3 separate regions of the Homo sapiens genome follow, and regions 2 and 3 are each linked to region 1. The links come from fine-mapping of genetic effects on gene expression. A gene starts in region 1. Each other region holds a variant in brackets. All regions are shown on one strand. Distances are from middle to middle.

The links.
Region 2: its variant is fine-mapped to the expression of MCPH1-DT in whole blood (TOPMed, PIP 0.99).
Region 3: its variant is fine-mapped to the expression of MCPH1-DT in lung (TOPMed, PIP 0.98).

Annotation. Positions count from the first base shown.
Region 1 is chr8:6,401,904-6,410,251 of GRCh38, reverse strand. MCPH1-DT (MCPH1 divergent transcript) reads left to right here and starts at 3,704. Exons shown (of 2, transcript NR_040040.1): 1 at 3,704-4,546; 2 at 5,132-6,696. It overlaps MCPH1 (microcephalin 1), which reads right to left and starts at 3,625. Exons shown (of 14, transcript NM_024596.5): 1 at 3,563-3,625; 2 at 882-973. The coding sequence starts at 3,584. RefSeq lists silencers at 3,364-3,543, 3,804-3,883.
Region 2 is chr8:6,487,147-6,495,146 of GRCh38, reverse strand. All of the region lies in intron 11 of MCPH1 (microcephalin 1), which reads right to left. Among named protein-coding and RNA genes, the nearest start is that of ANGPT2, 72 kb to the left of the region's middle. The variant G/C (reference allele first, on the strand shown) is at 4,813.
Region 3 is chr8:6,540,429-6,548,428 of GRCh38, reverse strand. All of the region lies in intron 12 of MCPH1 (microcephalin 1), which reads right to left. All of the region lies in intron 1 of ANGPT2 (angiopoietin 2), which reads left to right. Among named protein-coding and RNA genes, the nearest start is that of ANGPT2, 19 kb to the left of the region's middle. The variant T/C (reference allele first, on the strand shown) is at 4,864.

The DNA.
Region 1 (8,348 bases):
CTGTAATCCCAGCACTTTGGGAGGCCGAGGTGGGCGGATCACGAGATCAGGAGATTGAGACCATCCTGGCCAACATGGTGAAACCCCGTCTTTACTAAAAATACAAAAAAAAAAATTAGCTAGGCATGGTGGCATGTGCCTGTAGTCCCAGATACTTGGAAGGCTGAGGCAGGACAATCGCTTGAACCCAGAAGGCAGAGATTGCAGTGAGCTGAGATCGCGTCACTGCACTCCAGCCTAGCGACAGAGCGAGACTCCGTCTCAAAAAAAAAAAATTACTCCCTACTTTGACTTCCACACTTCCTTTCTCCTTCTCCTGGCATTCTTCTCTCCCTCTGTCACTGGGTCCCTGCTCCCATCGCCTGTCCTTGAATACTGAACAACGCTCCTCTGTCACCACTCTTCATCCTAACCATGCCTGACATGGGACGATGTCCACACCTGTGACTTCACATGACCCCTATGGTCCTGACCCCCTAGATCATCATCTCTAGCCTTGAACACTCCAAGCTCCAGACTTGTATATCCAAATATCTAACAGATATTTTTCAGTATGCCCAAATTTACAATTTTTCCCTTAGAAACCTGTTCCTTTTCCTGTATTCCTCACTTTGCTTAATAGCACTATGCATTCAAGTAACCAGTGTAAGAATCCAGCATTTCATCCTAGGTTCCTCCTCCTCACTCAATGCCCACAGGCATTGAGTTCTGAAAGTCCTACTGTTCTAAATTCTTCACACTTTGGCTCTTTTTTCTCCCACCGCTTACCCATTGCTTCGTCCAGATTCTAAGTAAAAACTCCCAAAATAAGAAAATGCAAATGTAACTTTTTACCAATCAGAAGACTGTCATATGAATCAACAGCAAAATAAGTGTCTTACCTTTGCCCCCATATCCACAAGCTGTGTTGTAAATGTCTTTGAATAATTTTCTGTTCCATTGGATGACCACACTTCAACATAGGCCACTACATCTGAAAACAAGATATGAACATGAAACATACATTTGAAATTCCAGCATCCCCTGCCCAATAGATTTTGTTCTATTTACATTTAAGAGTAAACCGAGGCCGGCACAGTGGCTCACGCCTGTAATCCCAGCACTGTGGGAGGCGGAAGTGGGTGGATCCACGAAGTCAGGGGTTTGAGACCAGCCGGGCCAACATGGTGAAAAACCATCTCTACTAAAAGATACAAAAAATTAGCCGAGCATGGTGGCGGGCACCTGTAATCCCAGCTACTGGGAGGCTGAGGCAGGAGAATCACTTGAACCCGGGAGGCAGAGGTTGCAGTGAGCCGAGATTGCGCCATTGCACTCCAGCCTGGGTGACAGGGCGAGACCCGTTTCAAAAAAAAAAAAAGAAAAAAGTAAAACAAAAATTTACTCTACTGGCCAGGTGTGGTGGCTCATGCTGTAATTGCAGCACTCTGGAAGGCCAAGGCAGTGGGATCACTTGGGCACAGAAGTTTGAGACCAGCCTGGGCAACATAGTGAAACCCTGTCTCTAAAAAAAATTTTGTTTTTAATTAGCCAGGAATGGTGGCGAGTGGCTGTAGTCCCAGCTACTGGGTGGGAAATGGGGGTGGGTAGGGTGGAGAAGCTGAGGTGGGAGAATCCCTAGAGCCCAGGAGGTAGAAGCTGAGTTATGATCGCACCATTGCACTCCAGCCTGGGCAGCAGAGAAAGACCTTGCCTCAAAAATAAGAAAAGTAAATGAAGTTTCTTCTACTGGCTGAACAAAGTAGCTCATGCCTGTAATCCCAGCATTTTGCAAGGTGGAGGCGGGAGGATTGCTTGAGGCTAGGAATTCAAGACCAGCCTAGGCAACATAGTGAGACCCTGGCTCTACAAAAAAATAATAAATTAAAAAATAAAAATAAAAATAACCGGGCGTGGTAGTGCCTGTAGTCCCAAGTTACTCAGGAGGCTGAAGCAGAATTGCTTGAGCTATTATGTGATCACATCACTGCGCTCCAGCCTGGGCAAGAGAGTAAGACTCTGTCTCATAAATAAATTTCTACTGAAAGCCTTTTCAAAATAGCTTCAGTGGAATTTATTAAAATTTTAAGCAAAGAACAACTGTACCCATACAATACATGAGAGTTTACATTTGTAAAATTAGTTGCTTTCCCCAAATTCTTACGCTTAATTTTTCCAGTGCAGAAACCTATTTTCTGTAAAGAGACAGATGGTAAATATTTCAGGCTTTGTGGCCAATACAGTATTTGCCACAACTACTCAACTTCACGGTTGTGGCACAAACATAACCATAGGTAATATATTAACGGGCCGGCCTGTGTTCCAATAAAACTTTATTTATGGAGAAGGAAATGTGAATGTGATATAATTTTTCATTTGACCTTTTTTTAAAATCACTTAAAAATGTAAAAGACATTCTTAGCTCGTAGACCCTTACAAAAACAGGCAGCAGGCTAGATATGGCCTGGGGGGCATAGTGAGTGGACCCCTGTTCTAGTGGATATCCTCTTCTCAAAACCTGATGTTTAAAAGCATTTTCCAGGTGTGCCGTTGGTCAATGATTGGGGGTAACGCTAAAAGAAAACCAGGTTAATTTAACAAAATACTAACATTAGAAAAATAGCCACATCTGATTACAGACTTTGTATAAAGCCTCTAGTCTTTACTTTTGGCTATGAGGTTTTATGACTCCAGGCCCCACAATACAGGCCCCTTTTTTCTCACGGTCAAACTCTACAAGACACGTGTCCGCTATTCCCCTCTCCTGGGCTCTTCCAGGTGCACAGAGGGTGGGACTGCGTGCGGTATCATATACTGGTTAGGACAGCAGCTCCGGTCTAAGGCCCTGTCAGCACTGACTAGCCACACACAGGGAGAGTCACCTAAACGTCCGATGCCTTAGTTTCTGCCTGTAAAATGATATAAGAGAGTTGATAGAGCGGTTAAAAAAATCAGACAATACCATACTAGCCTAAGCACAGCGCCTGGCACACAAAGACTCCGCAGTAAAAGGCGGCTCCTATTATTGGAACAATTAGCATAGAAACTCAACTGCCGCTCCTCCAGGTGGGCCTCAGAGGGGGTCGAACAGGACCAGACCCAGGAGGGCCCCACACCAACTTCCGGAGGGCAGGACTCTGCCTGCCAGTGAGCCCCAGATCCAGGGACTAAGGCAGCAGGGGTGAAAGCAGGTAGGGGGAAAGGCGGGATTTGGGGGACAGGCAGCATGGGGGAGGGAGCAGGCAGCGGGGGATTGAGGGGAACTAGCAGCACGGGGGTTGGGGCACAAGCAGTACGGGGGAGGAAGCAGGCAGTCGGGGGTTTGGGGGGACAGGGAGCACGGGAGACGAAGCAGGCAGCCGGGGGTTTTGGGGGGACAGGCAGCGGGGGAGAGAGCAGGAGCAGGGGGTTTTGGTGGGACAGGCAGCGGGGGAGGAAGGAGGCGGCAGGGGGTCTGGGGGAGACAGGCAGCGAGGGAGGGGCGAGCGGGGCTCCTCCCACGGGATCCCCCGAGTGCGCCCGCGACGAGGGGTGCCGGTCCTCAAACTCCCGCTGCTGGAGCAGGCAGCAGGAAGTACCTCACCTTTCAGGATGGGGGCCGCCATGACAGACGGCGGGATCCGGCCAGCTGGCCTACGCGGTGCTTGCGAGCCTGGCGGCGCGCGCGGGCACTGGGCATGCGCGGGGTGAGCGCGCCGCCGTCACCGCGCTCCGCTGAATCCGCGTTTCCGGGATTTCTCTGTAGGTGAGGCGGGAGGCTGGAGGGAGCTGAGCCCCCGGGGAGGGGGCCCGATTCCGCCTCGCCGCGCCTCTGGCTGCTGGGCCGTGGGTTTTTCTCTTCTCCTGGGAGTAAGGAGGACGACGGCCCCTAACCCCTGAATTAGCCTTCTATTTCCATTAGTGACTTAGAAGCTACCCGGCGCCTCATCTGGGCTCACCTGAGCTGAGGATCAGGAAGGGGAGGGGGCACAGTCATTCCCTCGCGGACGCGGCGGGACCCCAGCGGACGGCTTTGTGCGGACTTTCGGCACCGTTATGCCCCCCTAGCCCGACACCACCTGGGGCTGGCGCGCCACGTTACTGTTCAGGGCCAGACGCACCGCCCTGCCTGCTCCGGGGAGCCGGACCTCCGATCCCGGGGATGGGGGACCCCGAGACCTCAGACCCAACGGAGGGGACTCTGATACCTCAGACCCCACGCGGGGACCCCGAGGCTTCAGACCCCCACAGGGTGACCCCGAGATCTCAGACCCCCGCAGGAGTACCTCCAGACCTCAAATCCCCAGTAAGGGAATGAAAGAGACTTCGGATCCCTGAGGCAGCAAATCCCTGTAGGGGCATCCCAGGACTCAGGTCACCGCGGGGTGAACCCAGACCTCACATTCAGGCAATCCCCAGGACGCCGATCGGCTGGCACTACCCACTGTCCCGGCCACCCCCCCTGGAGCTCAAAGGCTTGGCCCTCCAGCTGCTCCACCCTGCCGGCAACCAGGCTCAAACCTGCAGCCCGCGGATCCCCTGCCCCGGAAGCAACCAGATTCGCGGGAGGTTACCTGACTGATCCAAGGTGATACAGCTGGTAACTGATGGAGATGTTGGTAGTGAAATTCATGTACTTTTAGTTCTTTCTATGGAATCTAGAGGTAGAATACATGTAAAAGAATATCGACTACCGTCTACTCAGGTCTCTGTTTTATCTGTTTATTCATTCACTCTCAGCTTTTAATAGGATCCAATGAGCCCTCTGTGGTTCTGAAGAATTGCCTTGAGTATATGCAGCCTCAAAAAACCCACTTCCTAGGCTCAGTCTTTGATCAATATTTATCATTATCACCAGTTATTGTTCTAATAAACTCTACTCTGGAAATATGGTGTTATGGTTTACTTGGGAGTGTGAGTTCAGGGCATCATTGAAGACTCACGTACTTTTACTGAGAAAGTGACATTGATCTCTGTAGATTTTGAATTAAATGATATGATGAAGTATATAAACCAATTACTTTTGGTCAAGGTGGTAAAAAAAGTTTAGTATTTGATAGATTCTTCATCTCCACGATCACAAATATTTTCTCCTAGGATTTCTTCTAGAAATATTACTGCTTTAGGTTGTATATCAGGTCTAGGTTCTACTTTTTTTTTTTTTTTTCTCCAGGCAGTTTCTCACTCCGTTGCCCAGGCTGGAATGCAGTGGTGTAATCACAGCTCACTGCAGCCTCAACCTACTGGACTCAAAGGATAAGATCTGCTTTTAATTAATTTTTGTATACGGTATGGGATAGGGACCAAAGTTCATTTTTTTGCATGTATACATATCCAAATGTTCCAGCATCATTTATTAAAAAGTTATTTTTGTCTCTACTGCATTTCCTTTGTGCTTACATCAAAATCTGTGTTGCATATGTATGTGTTTCATTTTAGGCTTCCTATTGTGTTCCATTGAGCTATTTGTCTTTTTGCTGCCAGCACCATGCTGTTTTGATTATTGTAGCTATATAAATAAGTGATGAAATCAGATAGTTTATGTCCTACAACTTTATTTTTCAAGGTTATTTTGTATCTTCTAGATTCTTCAGATTTCCTTTTAAATCTTAGAGTCGACTTCTCATTTTGCACAAAAAAATACTGCTGGGATTTTGATTGAGATTGTGTTGACTCTACAGATGAATTTGGGGAGAATTGACATTTTAACCATATTGAATCTTCTGACCCATTAACATTTAGGTCTTTTAAAATTTCTCTGGCCAGACGCAGTGGCTCACGCCTGCCACTTTGGGAGGCCAAGGCGGGCCGATCACAAGGTCAGGAGATTGAGACCATCCTGGCTAACACAGTGAAACCCCATCTCTACTAAAAATACAAAAAATTAGCCGGGCGTGGTGGCATGCGCCTGTAGCCCCAGCTACTTGGAAGGCTGAGGCAGGAGAATGGCATGAACCCGGGAGACAGAGCTTGCAGTGAGCAGAGATCTTGCCACTGCACTCCACCTGGGGCAACAGAGCGAGACTCCATCTCAAAAAAAAAAAATATAACTGTTGTTAGATTTTAACCTAAGTATTTGTTTTTTTATTTTGTTTTTCTTTTTTTCTTCTTTTTTTTTTTTTTTTTTTTTTGAGACAGGATCTCACTCTGTCTCCCAGGCTGAAGTGCAATGGTGTGATCATGGCTCATCTTGAAGCCTCGACCCTCCTGGGATCAAGCTATCCTCCCACCTCAACCTCCTGAGTAGCTGGGACTACAAGTACACATGACCATGCCCAATTCATTTTTTAAATTCTTTGTAGAGGCGGAGTCCCACTATGTTGCCCAGGCTGGTCTTGAACTCCTGGGCTCAAGCAATCCTCCCACCTCAGCTTCCCAAAGTGTAGGGATTACAGGCATGAGCCACTGTGCAAGGTCTTGTGTTTTTTGATAATATCGTAAATGGTGATTTTTTCATTTGTTTCTGATTGTTGCTAATATATGGAAATATAGTTGATATCTGCAATTGATCTCATGTCCTGAAAACTTGCTAAATCTGCTTAATAATTTTTTGTACATTCAAAATGATGTTCTACAGGTAGTCGTATTGTCTATGTTGGAAGGAAAGCTTTTCCTCATTCAATGTCGGTCCTGTGTTTGAAGACCTGCAAATTAACTGATAACAACAGGTTAACAGGAGAAAAGACAAGGTTTAGAGTAACTCACTAAATAGAAATAAAGGTTTATAGATCCACTTAACAAAATGTGTTGGGAGATTTTGGAGTTTCAGTAGGAAGTTGTGGAAGGTTCTTTTGGGCTTTTGGATGCTTATGAGAATGGGCAATCTGTCTCTACAGTAGTGGAATTTACAGGAAACTTCCTCAGAGGGAGGCCAATGGCAGCTGTATTTTCTGGGGGCTCTGCTTTAGTGAAATAAGGGAAGTTCAAATAAAATTTCTTGATGCGTCTTTCTTAGATCAAATATTTTCACAGTAAAATAATCTTTATACCAACTTTTAGGGCCTGAATGGTCCACACATTTCTCCATCTGAAACTTCCCTAGAAATTTCATTAACAAAAAAAAGAAGCTAAGTTGATTGCTGTGGGGAGATGATTTGAGTTAGAAATTGTAAGATGAGAGATCTGTAAAAGGGGGAAAAACATAGATTAGAACAAGGAAACAAAAACAATGATTAATGTTCAGAGCAGACGATAAACCCAGTCTAGAGGGTAAGCCAGTTATGAAATTTTCTAGATGTTGGGCTCCAGCTATCTTTAGTGAGGATGGTAGTGGTAGGTAGTGTTGCCATCATGGTTATTTCCTAGAGCACAGTCTGGAAGATGCAGGTGTTCTGGGGAAATATTTGAAAGACCCACGTGTTGTGATAAGTCTTTTGAAGTTTCTGTCTAGCCATCCAGCTTCAGCTTGCAAGGCTTTGAGAAGGAATCAGTTTTAGTTCTCAGTGACGTCAAGTCAGTAGAGTGGGAGGAAAATTGGAAATACTGATTACTGACAAAATATGTAAGATGGCAGGATCCAGGTTTTGTTTTGTTTTTTGTTTTGTTTGTTTGTTTTTGAGACTGAGTATCACTCTTGTTGCCCAGGCTGGAATGCAGTGGTGCAATCTCGGCTCACTGCAACCTCCACCTCCCAGATTCAAGCGATTCTCCTGCCTCAGCCTCCCAAGTAGCTGGGATTGTGGGCTAATTTTGTATTTGTAGTAGAGATGGGGTTTCTCCATGTTGGTCATGGCTGGTCTCGAACTCCCGACCTCAGGTGATTCCCCGGCCTCGGCCTCCCAGAGTGCTGGGATTACGGGCGTGAGCCACCGTGCCTGACCGGCAGGATCCAGCTTTTAAAGAGGTAAAAAAATTGCTCAAAGACAATGAACAAGACTAGAGTCTGATAACTCACACAACTGGGTTATAGTTTGCCATTGAAACATAAAATTTCTCTGTATAATTACTACCACTGAGATCAAAGATAAACAAAGTAAGATTACTCTTGTTTACAAAATAAGTCTTGTCTCATTAAATTTGGCCTGATCATTTACATAAGTCCAGCAAGAATGATAATTGACCACAGGAGCCTTTTTAGGTTTGCTTGGCTGGAACTTTTATAAGGAATCTCAGATTAGAGTTTTAAGACTACACCTACACAGCCAGGCGTGGTGGGTCACGCCTGTAATCCCAGCACTTTGGGAGGCTGAGGCGGGTGGATCACAAGGTCAGGAGTTCAAGACCATCCTGCCTAACCCGGTGAAACCCCGTCTTTACTAAAAATACAAAAAAATTAGCCGGGCGTAGTGGCGGGTGCCTGTAGTCCCAGCTACTCGGGAGGCTGAGGCAGGAGAATGGCATGAACCTGGGCGGCAGAGTTTGCAGTGAACCGAGATTGCACCACTGCATTC
Region 2 (8,000 bases), 85 kb before region 1:
GCATTTTCAAGCCAGAAAATAAAGGTCTAGTCTTCCAAAGAGACCAGCTTGAACTGGCAAAATTTCAAGCCAATAATATCTGTTCCAAAATAAGCTATTCTTCTGTATTTCCAACACATCTCATAACATCAAGAAATGCTTCCTATAATTCCATAAAGTTCTTTTAAAAATACAAACCTATTTAGTAGTTGTAGTGGTGCCTTAAAGCTATTTTCCATATATGACTTTTTTTAAGTGAGGTGAAATTGGCATAATATACAATTAACCATTTTAAAGTGTGCAATTCAATGGCATTTTATATCATGATGCTGTGCAACCAGCTCCTCTTTCTAGTTTCAAAATGCTTTCATCACCCCAGAAAAACATCCTGTACCTGTTAAGTAATCACTCCCCATCCCTCTCTCCCCTCCATCCCTGGTAACTTCTAATTAGTTTTCTATTCTATGGATTTACCTATTCTGGATATACTGTCTGAAAGGAATTATACAACATGTGCTTTTTGTGTCTGGCTCCTTTCACTCGGTGTGTTCAACGTTCATCCAAGTTATACTTTTAATGAAGGCTAGTGATCAGCGTCAAAAATGCTTGTTGAATAATAACGATATTTAATATTTATTGAGTGTTTACTGAGTACTTTATTTAGGTGATCTTTCCATTCTTTTACAGATAAAGAAACTGCCTTACCCAAGGTTACACAGCTACGGTGTAGCAAGGTTAGCAGTGAAATCCACTGCCTTATCCATTAATCTTTTCAAAACACACAGGCCATCAGAGAATGCCCATATCAAGGTTTACAGCTATAGAAGATAAAAAATACTCTCTAGGCTATCTTTGGAAGTAGATGCTAGAAAGAATGTGGGCTATGAATTGAGGAAGAGCTGAATTCAAATTCAAAATTCACCATTTCTGGCAGGATGCAGTGGCTCACATCTGTAATCCCAGTTCCTTGGGAGGCCAAGGTCGGCGGATCACTTGAGGTCAGGAGTTTGAGACCAGCCTGGACAACACGGTGAAACTCTGTCTCTACAAAAAATAAAAATTAGCCAGGTGTGGTGGCATGCACCTGTAATCCCAGCTACTCAAGAGGCTGAGGCACAAGAATTGCTTGAGCCTGGGAGACAGATGTTGCAGTGAGCCAAGATCGTGCCACTGCACTCCAGCCTGGGCAACAGAGCGAAACTCTGTCTCAAAGAAAAAAAAAAAAAATTTACTATTTCCAAGCACTATGACCATGAGCAATTTACTGAAAGTGTTCAAGCCACAGTTTCCACAGAGGATTACTGTCTTGACTAACAGCTTGACGATGTGTAAAACACTGACAAAGTAGCTCCGCATCTCTAAATGTTCCATGTGACTAACATCATTGGGACGCTGTCTCATCTCCACCCCCGAATACGACAGAGATCCCCGGTCATATTTTGTATCCTGGGGACCTAATGCTGGGTCACAGGACTAGCAGCGTGGACCTCACCTCAAGCCTGAGCAGACCCAGACCCACTGAACCAGGATCTGCACTTCAGTAAGATCCCCCAGGTGATCCACACATTAGTAAGGTTTTGAAAAGCACTGCTCTAGCTGTCTCATAAAGAAAGGGGCAGGAAGCTAAATATCTAACACAGCCTATTCAACCAAGAAAGGGAAGATAAGCAATAAAGTACTAAAAGTATATAGTTAAGAACCCATTTCCCTTTTAGAAGACATTGACCGATAGAGACTGAATTCCAGGTGGTGAGAGGGAAAACAAGCTGCATGTTGACCTAGGCTTGAATATTCTTATGAAAAAGCTCACCTCAATTGAACACAAACATTTAAGTTCAATTTATTCTCCTTGCATTCTACCTAATCCTTTCCAGTTTTCAAAAATGAAAATGGGTGATTCTCGATGTTAAGGCTTAACTGCTCAGTAATATTCACTTTATAAATACAGCTAAGCAATGACCAGGAAAACCCAGCATGTCACCACTGTACTCACATGTGAAGTCCAAACATCTTTATAAATAACTAAGTGCGTACTTCTCTTATCAAAAGGAAAACAAAGAAATAAATATAACAAATTCCAATGCAACTAAAATAAACAGCAGAAACATCACTTCACTGTATGAAAACACAGCAGAAATTATTACCAACACAGACAATAAACCAAATATTATGGCTACTAAGAGCAATCACTATTTTTTGTTCACATTAAGGGCAAAAGCACTTGACTCTGCCATAGCCTCCCTAGAGCCACGTACCAGGAAGTAGACAATAGTATTTACATGGCAAAGCGCAGTATGCAGTCTCTGTACTACCCAAGAGTACAATAATTTAACAATAATCCTTATCAGTTAATCAATTAATTACTTAACTCAATCAATAATTCAATAATGAAAGATTATTAATTTTATAATATTAAATAATTATTATTAATATTTATTTGATAATTTAATATAAAATATTTATTTTTAAAAAAATTTTAAATTTTAATATTCTAAAAATTTAATATTAACTATTTAATATTAATATTATTAAATAATTGTTATTAATGATGAATAGCATAGAAATATGCTATTTCTATAGCATAGAAAACCTTGGCAATAATATTCAGGACACAGGCATGGACAAGGACTTCATGTCTAAAACACCAAATGCAATGGCAACAAAAGCCAAAATTGATAAATGGGATCTAATTAAACTAAAGAGCTTCTGCACAGCAAAAGAAACTACCATCAGAGTGAACAGGCAACCTACAGAATGTGAGAAAATTTTTGCAATCTACTCATCTGACAAAGGGCTAATATCCAGAATCTACAAAGAACTCTAACAAATTTACAAGAAAAAAACAACCCCATCAACAAGTGGGCGAAGGATATGAACAGACACTTCTCAAAAGAAGACATTTATGCAGCCAACAGACACATGAAAACATGCGCATCATCACTGGCCATCAGAGAAATGCAAATTAAAACCACAATGAGATACCATCACACACCAGTTAGAATGGCGATCATTAAAAAGTCAGGAAACAACAGGTGCTGGAGAGGATGTGGAGAAATAGGAACACTTTTACATTGCTAGTGGGACTGTAAACTAGTTCAACCATTGTGGAAGTCAGTGTGGCGATTCCTCAGGGATCTAGAACTAGAAATACCATTTGATCCAGCCATCCCATTACTGGGTATATACCCAAAGGACTATAAATCATGCTGCTATAAAGACACATGCACACGTGTGTTTACTGTGGCACTATTTACAATAGCAAAGACTTGGAACCAACCCAAATGTCCAACAATGATAGACTGGATTAAGAAAATGTGGCACATATACACCATGGACTACTATGCAGCCATAAAATATGATGAGTTCATGTCCTTTGTAGGGACATGGATGAAGCTGGAAACCATCATTCTCAGCAAACTATCACAAGGACAAAAAAACCAAACACCGCATGTTCTCACTCATAGGTGGGAATTGAACAATGAGAAGACATGGACACAGGAAGGGGAACATCACACACCAGGGCCTGTTGTGGGGTCGGGGGAGTGGGGAGGGATAGCATTAGGAGATATACCTAATGCTAAATGACGAGTTAATGAGTGCAGCACACCAGCATGGCACATGCATACATATGTAACAAACCTGCATGTTGTGCACATGTACCCTAGAACTTAAAGTATAATAAAAAAAAAAGAATACTAGAAAAAAAAATACATGTTCTGAGCAATGCTTTTAAAGCTAATTGTCCTTCTGTCCTAATAATAATCTTTAGCAGCTAAAAAAAAAAAAAAAAAGAAAGAAACCATAGACTCTACTTCTGTTTATCGAAGTAAGTGGTAGGTGTATTCTCCATAAGTGAGACATTATTCTGGAATTGTGTAAATTATTCACCAAACATTGCAAAGCACTCTGACTTCTCAGAAATACTTTAATTGTATGGCAAAAAAATTAAATTGTCTTTTCAACTGACTCATGATCTCAATTTAAGTTTATTTGCTAGGAGAGATTTTAAGAAATGTATGACACTATTTGGTATGTGGCCACCTTTTTGCCATACTACTTTGAAAGTTTAATAAAACCAATGCTTCAAAAGTAAAAAAAAAATTTTTTTTGATAAATTTTATTTTTTAAATTTTAAATTTTAATATTCTAAAAATTTAATATTAAGTATTTAATATTAATATTAAATAATTGTTATTAATGATTAATAGCATTATTGATATTATATTATTAATATATACAATGCTTGTTAAATTATTAACTTAGGCACAACTTCAATATTCTGGCAGAGAAACTTTCTTTCAGAAACAAGAACCCAAGAAAAAGAACTAAAAAACAGCTCTATTATGAACCTATGGCAAGCTGTTACTCTAGCTGACAAAACCGCATTACATAATTCTCATTCTCTGGTTAAGGACAGCCTAACAAATTTTCTGTATGAGATTTTCCTATGAAATTCATTTCATTTGGAATTCCTATTCAATTCATTGGAAATTAATTTTAGGAGAAAGGCATTAGGTGGATCATACATCAAAAGTATCAGGTAGCAAAATGTACAATGTCGTCAAATATAGCTTTGAAAAAAGTACAACAGTTTCCTAAAATCTAGTATTTCTTACATCAGCTCTCTTCAAAAGCTAACATTGTCCCTAAAACCGAATTCACAGAGGGTGCTTACACACAGACTGTAAGAGAAGTATGATGTTCCTTGGAAATCATTTTAACTTGGGGATAGAGTTTAGAAGCCTTGAAATAACAGATTGTTAACAATGTCCCCAAAGTCCCTGAGGAACATCTAAATGACATCTAAATGATGGACAGCTGAAGACAGTTTTT[G/C]AAGTGACAGATAAAACCAAACCATGGTTGAATTTTCCAATGAATACCTGAAGTTAAAATATTCTGTGCTATTATTTAATATTTACAGTGAGAACTGTGTGATTGAGATGTCAGAAACAAAAGTGAAAGTTCAGATGTCTGGCAGAACACTGCAAAGGTTAAAGTGCACCTTGAGGTATGGTCAAAGCTTGGAATTTGTGCTGCAGTTCAGCATGGACCAAGTTGACGTCCTGGAGGTCTCAGTCATAAGGCAAATGTTGGGGAACTGAGATCTACACTGAAGACCTGTGTTACTTCACAGTTGATCCAAGTTAAAAGAAAAGGAAAGACCAACAGTGTGATCCTTGAAGGCCATGATTTGGAAAAGGATGGGTGGCAACAAGTACCCTCTCGACTTGTTGGTTTTTAGCCTTATCCATTTAAAGTATTTGCCAAATACAGCAACTTTTTCATTAATATACATAATCTTAGTTTACTTTTTAAATTTTTTTTCCCTGATAACTCAGCCAACAGATTCAGATGCTTCCCAAGGCCACACTCAACTCACCATAATGCAACCACATCGCCAAGCACTAGGACGATGATCTGTGTTGCAGTTGGCAACACGAGAAGGCTCGAGTCACACTTCACAGTGCCCCATTCGCTGCCAACCAATCTCTCTGATGTAGCAGCAGCATTATGTCTAGGAATAACATATCAGCAATATGTCTGATAATAATCCCTAACTCAGCAAATCGCACCATTACACATAACCCTAGTGCTTCCACTGCTTTATGTACCATTGACTCTTCAACTGTCTTAGTCATTGGATTCATCCTGCTTTTTTCAAGGTCTCTGACAACATCCACCTGAAGAAATCAAACAGTGGCTTCTGTCTCCTCTTATTCACCTTCCAGCAGCACTCAGCACAGCTGAGCATCCTTCCTTCCTGAGACAGTCCCCCTTCTGACTGATGCCATGTTCCCCTGGTGTCTCCCCCAGGTTGCTAGCTAGCCGTTCCCGGGTCCCCCTGCCTCCCCCTTCCCCCTGACTTCTGCATAGGGGCACAGCCCAGAGATCAAACCTAAACTCACTGTTTTCTTCATTTCTTCATTCACACTCCCTTCCAGGTACCATGGCTGGAGTGAATAGTTAACCTTTCCTCTGAATATTTGTACATATATATAATCTGATATGTAGTATCTCTATTTGAATGTCCAGTAGGAATCTCAGACCTAATATGCCTACATCAATTTTTTATTGTACCCCAAACCTTGCACACAATCTTCTGCCCCAGAATTCCCTAACTCTGCAAATGGCACCATTATCTATAGTTAGTCGCCCCAGGAAAAAATTTGGGTGGGAGTCTTCTTGACTTCTCCATTCCCACACACCTGACGTTACAGATTCCACTAGATCTTCCTAGGAAGGGCGCCGACCTGCTCTCTCCTCTCCACCTATCAACCCCCCCTCTAGACACAGCCGCAGTCATTTTTCACCTCGATGACCCTAGCTGCCTCCTGCTTCTCACCCTGTTCTTACCTCCCTGCAATCCATTCTTTGCTGAGAGGCCACAGAGACAAAAGCTGCCACTCTGTAATTAAAATAGTCCGATGGCTTCTGCATCCCTCGTCTTGAACTACACAGCCATACTGGGGCCCTACAGCCTTCTCCAACACCTGTCCTCCTCACTCCCGGTGCCTCAGGTATTTCTCTTTCTTGCAAAGGTGCAGCCTTAGGACCCGGGCACTGCCTTTTCTGTGCCAGGTGCATTAAGTAGATTCTGTTTAGCACCTTTCGAAAATTAAAAAATATTAATGTAAAAATTTGAAAATGGTGATCAAACTTTATTTCTAATCAAGCCTGTGGTTGCATCTCAGGGTGACTCCACAGTCTTCTCCCACTAAAAAAATCACTTTGACTCTTTCAAACTTTAACATCAGTCATTCTTAGCACTCACAGGTTTCTCCACATCTTTCCAAATGTCCTCCTAGAGGGCAGCACCACAGCCCTCAATTTTACAGATGAATCACTTTTTGGTATCTGTCCTCAATCAGCAGATTATGGTCCTGGGAAGCACAGCGGCTCCAACCTGGGAAATGCGCACCTTGGGGTCTTGCCAGGAGCAGCAGACAGGGGGATGGAGGACCTAGACCGCAGCGCCTGCTTCCCATGCTCCCAGCGGCCAGAGGCCACGCTGCCGCAGCCTGCAGGAGCCTCCGCAGAGAATGAGCTCTGGCACTGCTCAGGAACCACCTCAAGTGAAAGAAGCAGACAAACTCTGTGGGTTCTATGTCTGGGCAAAACCAGAATCCATTATTTTAATCAGGAAAAAGTATAAATTAGGTGTCCTGGAGATAAATGTAAGACCATAGTCACTGCCTTAAAACAATGCCTTGACAGAGATGTGTTTCTAAGATCCACGTTCAAGTCAGACAAGCTATTTTTGCCCAGAGTCTCCATCACTAAATTCACTAATTATTTGCAGCGTCCTTCTCGGCTGCAAAAATGTTCTGTCAGGATCCAGTGAGACAGTGCATGTGAAAACACTCTGTGAAGTATAAAGTCCTTTACCAAGGTATAATCTGTAGCAGGATAAAAAGGACTTTGAAATCAAGCCGTGAAAGTTCAGAGACCCAGGCCTGAGATCCTAGTCAGCTTGCAAGTGCGAGCAATAAATGTCTGCCAGAGAGACCTGAAGGGCACCCTCAGAAACTCAGTGTCAGTGTGACACACCAAGTACAATGTCCCTGAAGATTCTTCCTAACATGAGTTATGAAGTTAATCTGCCAACTGAAAGTTAAAAAGAGAATGGTTTTTCAAGATGATCCCTTTTGAACAGACTTAGGAATGCAGGGTGATGAACTAACACCAGTGAAAAGCTGAGATTCCAGTTCTGGTTCTCCCATGAGTTATAATTTTAGGAGAGCGGCTCAGCATTTCTTTAATGTAAAATGAGAGGCGTGAACGGAATGAACTGAGTGTGTTATTCTAACAGTTCATTGATTCTATGCTCACCACTGATAAAAACATATCTCATCTGACTCACTGCTTACTAAGTTCAATGTGGATCACATTATCTCAAGAAAATAGTCATCATGAAATCATTTTTGATTAAGAAAACACTAGATTATCTGTTGATAGTTAGCGGCCTTGACATTTTGTTGTAAAGCTGATTTAGCTTTTAAGCCCTACACTTGTATTTATAA
Region 3 (8,000 bases), 140 kb before region 1:
ATGAGGATCAAAATCCTAATTCTGAGTTATCACTGCCATTTTCGGGAAATTTCCTAGGCTAGCATGGACTTGCCCATGAAAGGCATCTAAGTGGCAGGGGACCAACAGCTGGGAAGTGACGCACGAGTAGAGTCCTGTCAGGTCTACACACACCACCTGAAAATGCCAGGGTGCAGGAAAGGCATTTTGGACAAAGCCTTCACGTAGGTTCTAACTTTGGCCTTCTAAAGTCAAAGCGTGCCGCCTCAAGCCACTCCAGGAGAAGGCCAAGATTCCAGTGGAACCAACTACTCATAATTTGAATCCCAAAGAGCAGCCAAAACTCCAATGTAGGTTCTTCCGCTAGGGGGGATTCAGTAAAGACACTAAACCACAAAGTTTAAGCTGGCACTTGGACCACTTAAATGTGAAACTAAATTTCTACAACTGAGGGAAGCGTTCAAGAATTCACTGCCACTGATAAAATTAAACTGGCTCGTAGGAGTCATAACCCAAACTAGAGAAGTAACCACAGTGAGTTTTGGTTAAAAAAAAAAAAAAAAATGGGGGTAAGATGACTCACTGAAACAAACAAACAAACCTAACAATAGGAAAACCTCTGCCACGGCTCCCTTCTTCCGGTGCTCCCCTGGCCCCGCATTCCCACCGGCATGGGAGCTTTTGTTCCCACCGAGTGAGTCAGTGGAGATGGGAATCTCTAGTGACTTGTGTGAACCAGTGTTGCTGCAGCTCTGAGAAATGGTGCTGCTGTGCTGTGTGTCACACACCGTCACTCAAAGGCACTCACTGTTTGATAGGAACATGTGCCCCTCTACTGATGAGGCAAGTGAGTCAGCCATTCTACGGTGGTCCAAAGTGCTACTGTGACTCTGCGCCCCTTTGATAAACAGAGAAACATCTCTGGAAATAACTTCTTCCCCTTCCAGTTGTTGAGTAAAAATTCAAGCATGCAGAAGAAAACGTCAGTTCTGAATGGCATGCTTTTTATAACTTATGGCAGTGGAGTGAAAGGGGAGAGGAAATTTCCACTAGCTTCCATTGCAAGAGACACATATGCAAGGCAAGAGGGTTAAAGAGAGGGGGCGGACCTCCAGAACTGAAACTAATTATGGGAAAATGATTCAAGTCTCTGTACTTTTACCACAAGCATTTGGAGAATCACACTGAAAGTTTACTTCCCGAATTGCTGTGGCATGCAAGTAAATTTGACTTTTCTGTATAATCTAATGGTATAAAACTAGTTCACCTTAGAGCAAGTGAGGATGGTGAGGAGGCAAACTATAAATTACAAGCAGAAATAGGCCACATGAGTTTTGTAAAACTGGCACCTATCTACACTTCCAAAAACGCATTAGCCCGAAGGCAACCACGGTACACACGGAACACGTGCATGTTGCTCTGAGAACGCTTCTTCCGAGGTACACCGTGGTTATAAATGCTGTTCACCTGAAAGAAGACAGGACTAACCAGCCAGCTTGCAAGGAACATGGCTGTTTTTCCTAGTGATTTCAGAAGTTAGGAAAACACGGAAGGGTACATCTTAATGAAGGTCTTACACAATTTATTAGTTCTTTTTGACTTACTCGCTTTCCGATAAACATATCAAATCATAGAGATTACAATTAAAGGCAATACTTGGATTGGGGGAAGGGGAGGAAGAGGGTACGTTGAGTTTATATCCTACCAAGTGCAAGCTTCTAGGCTAGTTGTTCTCAAACTTTCTCAGCTCATGGGACCCTTAGTGATTCACTATTTTTTCTCTATTTATCTCTAGGCCAACAGTTGCTTGTATTAAGCGGTTAGCTCCAAATAATTTAAGTATTTATGTTCTGACAATTTAGTAGCTATTTGAAAATACCAATATACATATAAATTGAGTTTTAAAAAAAGATCCTTTATTTTCTTTCTTAAGTAACCCCAGTGACGTATGAATGGAATATATTTGCCAGTTAGGCACACCTGGCTTCTCAAACTTTGGAATCAAATTGGACACTGCCACCTGCATTTTACGCTCTATGCTAATTTTCCTGTAGCACTTGCTTTTCACAAACAGCAACCACCAAAAACCTAGCTTTACAGAGGTACAAGCTGATACTGTTGAAACGGTGAACTGCTTTGAGCTATGAATTCTTCCAGTGGCTGACAGTCATTGAACACTGCTGGGTTGCCCTTGAATATTCAGACTGTCTCCCTTACTCCAATTTGTTTGCTGCAAGGACCCAGGGTGCCTTGGCACACAGTTTGGGAATTGTGCTAACTCATTCCACTTAATTTTCACACTAGCATAGCACAGTAGGTATTTATATACCTGTTTTACCAACCAGAAATGTGATGTTAGAAAGTATTGAGCCAGTAGTTCCTAAGGAACTGAACTGGGACTCACACCGGGTGTGTTTGATTCTCAAATCTGTACTGTAATGATGAATCTGTAATGACAATGGCTTCCAATGTCACAAATATCGCTACTTCCCCAACTCAATTCAATATGAACAAAGTTATTTTATTCAGTTTTTTATACTATGTCTCAAAAGTCAGAAACACTTGCATTGCAGTAGCTCAAAGCAGAACTAAATTCAATCGATTTCACTTTTCTCAGAGTAATCTTGTATTTATTCCAATGGGCAATGGGTAGAACTATTATTAATAGCACAAATCATTTTCTTCCTATACTTGAAGCCACTGAAATCCAACAAAATCCAATACATGACTCAGACATTTATTTATTTATTATTTATTTTTAGACTAATGGGAACCACATGAATTCTTTCTTGGTCTTCCAAGAGCAAATGCCTTTTATGCTTGATCCGGAAAGAATCGTGTTTTGGAATGTCAGATTACGAATATACATTTTAACCCTCATCAGATGGCTGGAATGGTTTAATCCACAGTTCTCTAAGATAGTTACTTTAAAATTACTTTTCCAAAGTTCATTTCATTAGGCATTATTTAGGTGCTCCTAGATGAAAACTGCAGAGACAAATAAAACCACCCATAGTAACTAGGGTCATAGTGTCACAACAAAACTTGTCAAACATTTCATTTCTAAATGTCTTTTAGTTTTTAAAAGAATTTTTGAGATATAAAACACAGGAAATGGATAAAGTATACTAACCTGAAATTTACAGCTTGATAACTTTTAAAAATATGGATTCACTCATGTAACCAGCACCGAGGTCAAGATCTAGGAAACATTTTCAGCACTCCAGAAGGCTCCCTCGTGCCACTGCTCAGTTCACAGCCTCAAACCCCTCCCACCCGGAAGACATTATTCTGACTTCTATCACCTTTAGTAAGTTCGGTCCATTCTTGAGCTTCATGGAAATGGATCATCTAGTAAGCACTCCTAGGGTGTGGCTTCTGTGACCCAACATGATGTCTGTGATGGCATTCATTTGACAGCGATCTATTATGTTATTTGTTAAAATGGAACTGCAGAGCATGAGCTCATCATACCAGTCTCCATGGAGCAACATTTAAAAATCAAAATAATAATTCCATTGTGAGAACAAAACTAGTGAGACTACTGACCAAAGAATCTGATGTTAGCAGGTTCAATCTGAAATGACATAATTGGCCTCAAAACATATTTCGAGTCTTCCTGATGTCGACAGTTCAGCAGATGTTATAGATTCAAGTCAGGAGGTAAGGGAGGCTCTTTTATGGCAAAGTGTAACTCTAAATGCTGTATCTGTGTCTTTATCTTAATGAATTCCTTCTTAGAGTGCCATTTTCTGTAAAAATTACTTTAGAATGAGGAATCCTATAGAAATAAAATATGTGCTTGCGCTTCATTTCATGGCCAAGTTGTGCATGTCGGTTCTTACTCAACCCTCTCCCCCTCCAATACATGAATGACACACCCTGAAAAAAACTTCGACAAACTCTCTCCGAAAATGACTTGGAAACATCCCTAGAGCTGGTATTTTGTAAAAAACAGTTTGACGTAACATATATTTTGTAGTAAAATACTCTCTTATTTTGGGTTAGGAGGTCTTGGAAGACATAATTACAAGTTCAGTGATTTGCCCAAAGTCATAATCACCATGTGCAGTTCACAGTCTCTCTTTCCAGCACAGTCAAACTATAATCATCACGGAACACAGTGCATGTGCTTTTAGAACATTTTTGCTGGACTGCTGGCCACAGACAGAAGTAGAACGTGTTTATGGGGTTTTCTATGGTCTTCCATAATAAACAGAGGTCCCAGCTTCACTATCAACATTTGAAATGGCAAATGGTAAATATGTTGATTCGTACTTGTTACACTTCCTACCAAATTTCAGATCAAGAGATGAAGATAAAAGTTATGTTTGGAAAACAAAAAGTTATACTATTCTCTGTCTTGCCACATCATCTAGGTATTGAATATTGTTTTGCTTTTGCTCCATTGTTTCTTATCTGAAAACATTCTACTGCTGATCAGATCTAAAACAAGGTTAAAATGCTTAAAATATATTGCAACTTTAAAGATTAAGGTGCAAAACATAGCCCCGTTAAATAATCTGTGTTTCTAATGTGAGTTATAAAAAGATTGCGCCCTTTCAGCTTCTGCAAAGCCCAGGCAGATGTACAGCTCCTTAAAGTCCATGCACACAGGGGGTTTAAATTATGTAAATAAATATGAAAATATGAAAAAACTCGCAGCTTTAAATACTTGGGAGAATGGGAACTGAACCAGAGGTCGAAGGGACAGATCATCTCATCCAATACAAGGGGTAGATTATCTTCCTAAATAGTTCAGAAAAGCACGAACTTCAGCGGTTATGAAATCATTACATTAAAAAAAGCTGCACCTACAGCTTTATGAACACAAAAATCAAAGAGGAAAGAACACATTTCTTTTCTGAAAATCCCCTGGCCTTA[T/C]ACGACAGCGCTTTTCCCTATGGTTTGGGCGGGTTTATTCCGCAGATGGGAGCTGGATGCTCCCCACGACCCACGCACATTGCCCGTCAGTGCGTTTTGCTCACAGGAGTCTCAAGTTGCTGCAGAGCACGGAAATGTGTGTTTGCATCCATTTACTCTAACCCAGGAAAGCACAGAGAGAAGGGTGTCCAGGCAGGAGACGAGGAGCAGTTCGTTGGAGAGCCATCACCCATACTGAGAAAGTAACTGTACAAACACATTTGCGGACGGCGGGTCAGTAGTGCATCTTCATGTACAGAAGATGGCTTGTGTTCCCGCTGAGTCTTCGTGTAAATTAATCCTGTGTATTTTGAGCATCTTCCAATATTATCTCAAAAATTCTATCCATTGGAATTCTTTCAACTTTTTGGGTGCTAGCAGAAAGAGGAGATAAAGAAGCAGAAAGTCTTGGCTGGGGGTGGAGTTGCGGGGGTTTCTGTCCAGAGGCAGTGGGACCCGGCAGGGCACGCACAGCCCTGCTGTGAGATTTCTCAAGCATTCCCATCAGCATTCCCAAGTCCGCTCCTCTCCCTTTTTAAAACAGAAACAACACACGCTTCCTGCCGGCCTTATAAAGGACAGCAAAAACTAGTTTGCCTGGAAAATGTCTTCTAGAAAATTATCTAAATTTAGAAAATCATCTAAGTTTCGCTAGCCTTTTCCCTTTTCTAGCCATTTAGGATAGTCATTGTGACCAAGTAAATTCAGTTTATTGGAAAAAGAAAAAAACTGCCCACTTCAGAGATGATCATGCTACCTCCTCCACAGAGCTCCACCCAGTATTTTGGCAAACCCATGTAACACAGAAAGAGACAGCAAAAACAGGGCAGAGAGGAGACGTAAAAGGCCATCAGTATCTTTATACTTCATTTCAAAAATGAAAAAGTAAGAATGTTAATGCTCCTCAGACAGCACTTTTTTTTTTTTAAGATAAGAATAGGCATATCAGTACAGCGATGAGAGTGCGGGATGGGGTGTTGGGAGACCAGGGTTTAAGTTAGTACTCTGCTACCAGCTAGCACTGTGACCCAGGCGCTAGCGTCCCTCTTACAGTGACACTCCGACAATATTACAGGGTCTAAAGCCTCCCGCCATTGCCCACCAAGCTTTGGAATGTCTATTTCTTAGAGAACTGAAACACACACACACAAGTTTTGGAATGTCTGTTTCTTAGAGAACTGAAACACACACACATACATACACACACACACAGATACACACACACACACACACACCCCTACCTCACATGTGTAGACAAATGTATGCATATATGTCTCTAGACAGATATACATAAGATTCTATTTGGCATAGAAAAACACTGAGACATTTTGTTACATTATTATTATTTTTTCTTTCAGTGTGCCTTAAATTCAGAAAGGCAAGAACGCTCTAGTTTCATTTAAAAAGGAAGTTCCTGGTATATTGTAGCCTAAATGCATCAATCTCATTCCTAGAGCTAAATTTTAACTGCTTCTATTTGTAATCATTTATCATTCAGTACTTTTTTTTTTTTTTTTTTGAGATTGAGTCTCATTCTGTCACCCAGGCTGGAGTGCAGTGGCACGATCACGGCTCACTGCAGCCTCAACCTCCTGGGCTCAAGCAATCCTCCCACCTTAGCCTCCTGAGTAGCTAGGACCACAGGCATGAGCCACCATGTCCAGCTAATTTTTAAAAAAATTTTCTGTAGAGATGGAGTCTCGCCATGTTGCCTAGGCTGGTCTTGAACTGCTGACCTCAAGTGATCCTCCTACCTTGGCCCCCTAAAGTATTGGGATTACAGGAGTGAGCCACTATGCCCGGCCCTACATTCAGTACAGTTTTAAAAAGAAAATAGTTTTATATTTTCTTCTATCTCTGTAGGGAAAACATCACTACTATCTTCTAAGCTGAGAATTTAACAAAGTATCCCAAAAAATAGACGAATGGCAGAAGTCTGCAGAATAACTCAGAGGCCACCAAGGACCTGCCGAGCGTCTCCGCATTCGCTCTGCTGCTGCAACCTCATCTCACTCCTGCATGACAACCCTGGCTTTGGTTTCCTGTCTCCAGGCCTGCCCTGCCCCAATCTACTAGAAATATTGTCTTTCTCAGAGCACTGCTTTTCCTCTCCTCTCCTCTCCAGCGCTGCTGACTGGGGGCTATAAATACAAGCTCCCCTTCCACGTGGCCCCGAGTTACCCACTAGCCTGTCTTTAGCCACTGCCCACAGCCTGGGGCCCATGAGACTTGGGGTGGGCACTGACTTTCTCTAAGCCTCATTTTTCTCCTTCATTAAAGGGGCCTCAAAGCATCCCCTGCTGTGTCAGGGAAACCCTCTGGTGCTGCTCAGAATTCACCCTCTTGTGCTGCTCGGAATTAACCCTCTGGGCCCAACTTGCTCTTCAGGACATCTCAGAGACAGGCCTTGCCTCAGGCCTTCCCACAAACCCCCAGGCCATGCCTAGGGACGTTGGCTCCAAGCTGCCTCGGGACACCCATGAGAGCCTCCTCGGCACTCTCGCAAGCACAGCTCCAAAACCTGGGTCATGAATGCCCACTAGGCTCCACCTGCCCCCTGGGGACAGCAGTCCCCATTCTTGCCCCAGGTGGATGTTCTGAGACACTGTCCCAGGGCTCCTTGGGAGATCCTGTGGGGCTTCTTACCAGCCAGCGCGGCGGTGGCCGCCTGAGTCCACGTGTGCGAACCACCCTGCGGCGCCCCTGCCTCCCGCGCCTGTTCGGCATGGCTGCGCTCTGGGACCACTGCCTAAATAAACTTCCTGCATGCCTGCCTTTGTCTCAGGCTCTGCTTTTGGGGAAACCCAAGCTAAGGCAGTGTGAGAATCTGGTGAGACAGAGGTACACACACATACACACTGAGAAGCATTTTGTCATTGTAAGCTGCTGTAACTATTCTTGCTGTGTATATATCTATATATGCAGACGTGGCCTGACAACGTCTGTTGCACTGTATTTGCTCCTCATCTTCCAGGAATCTGTGCAAGTGTCAGGTATGCATAACGTGCCATGAGGCTGCACGCTCACAGACATCTGGTAAATATACATGTGCCCTACAAGACCTCTAAAAGACACTCGTGTAAAATGTGACACCTTTT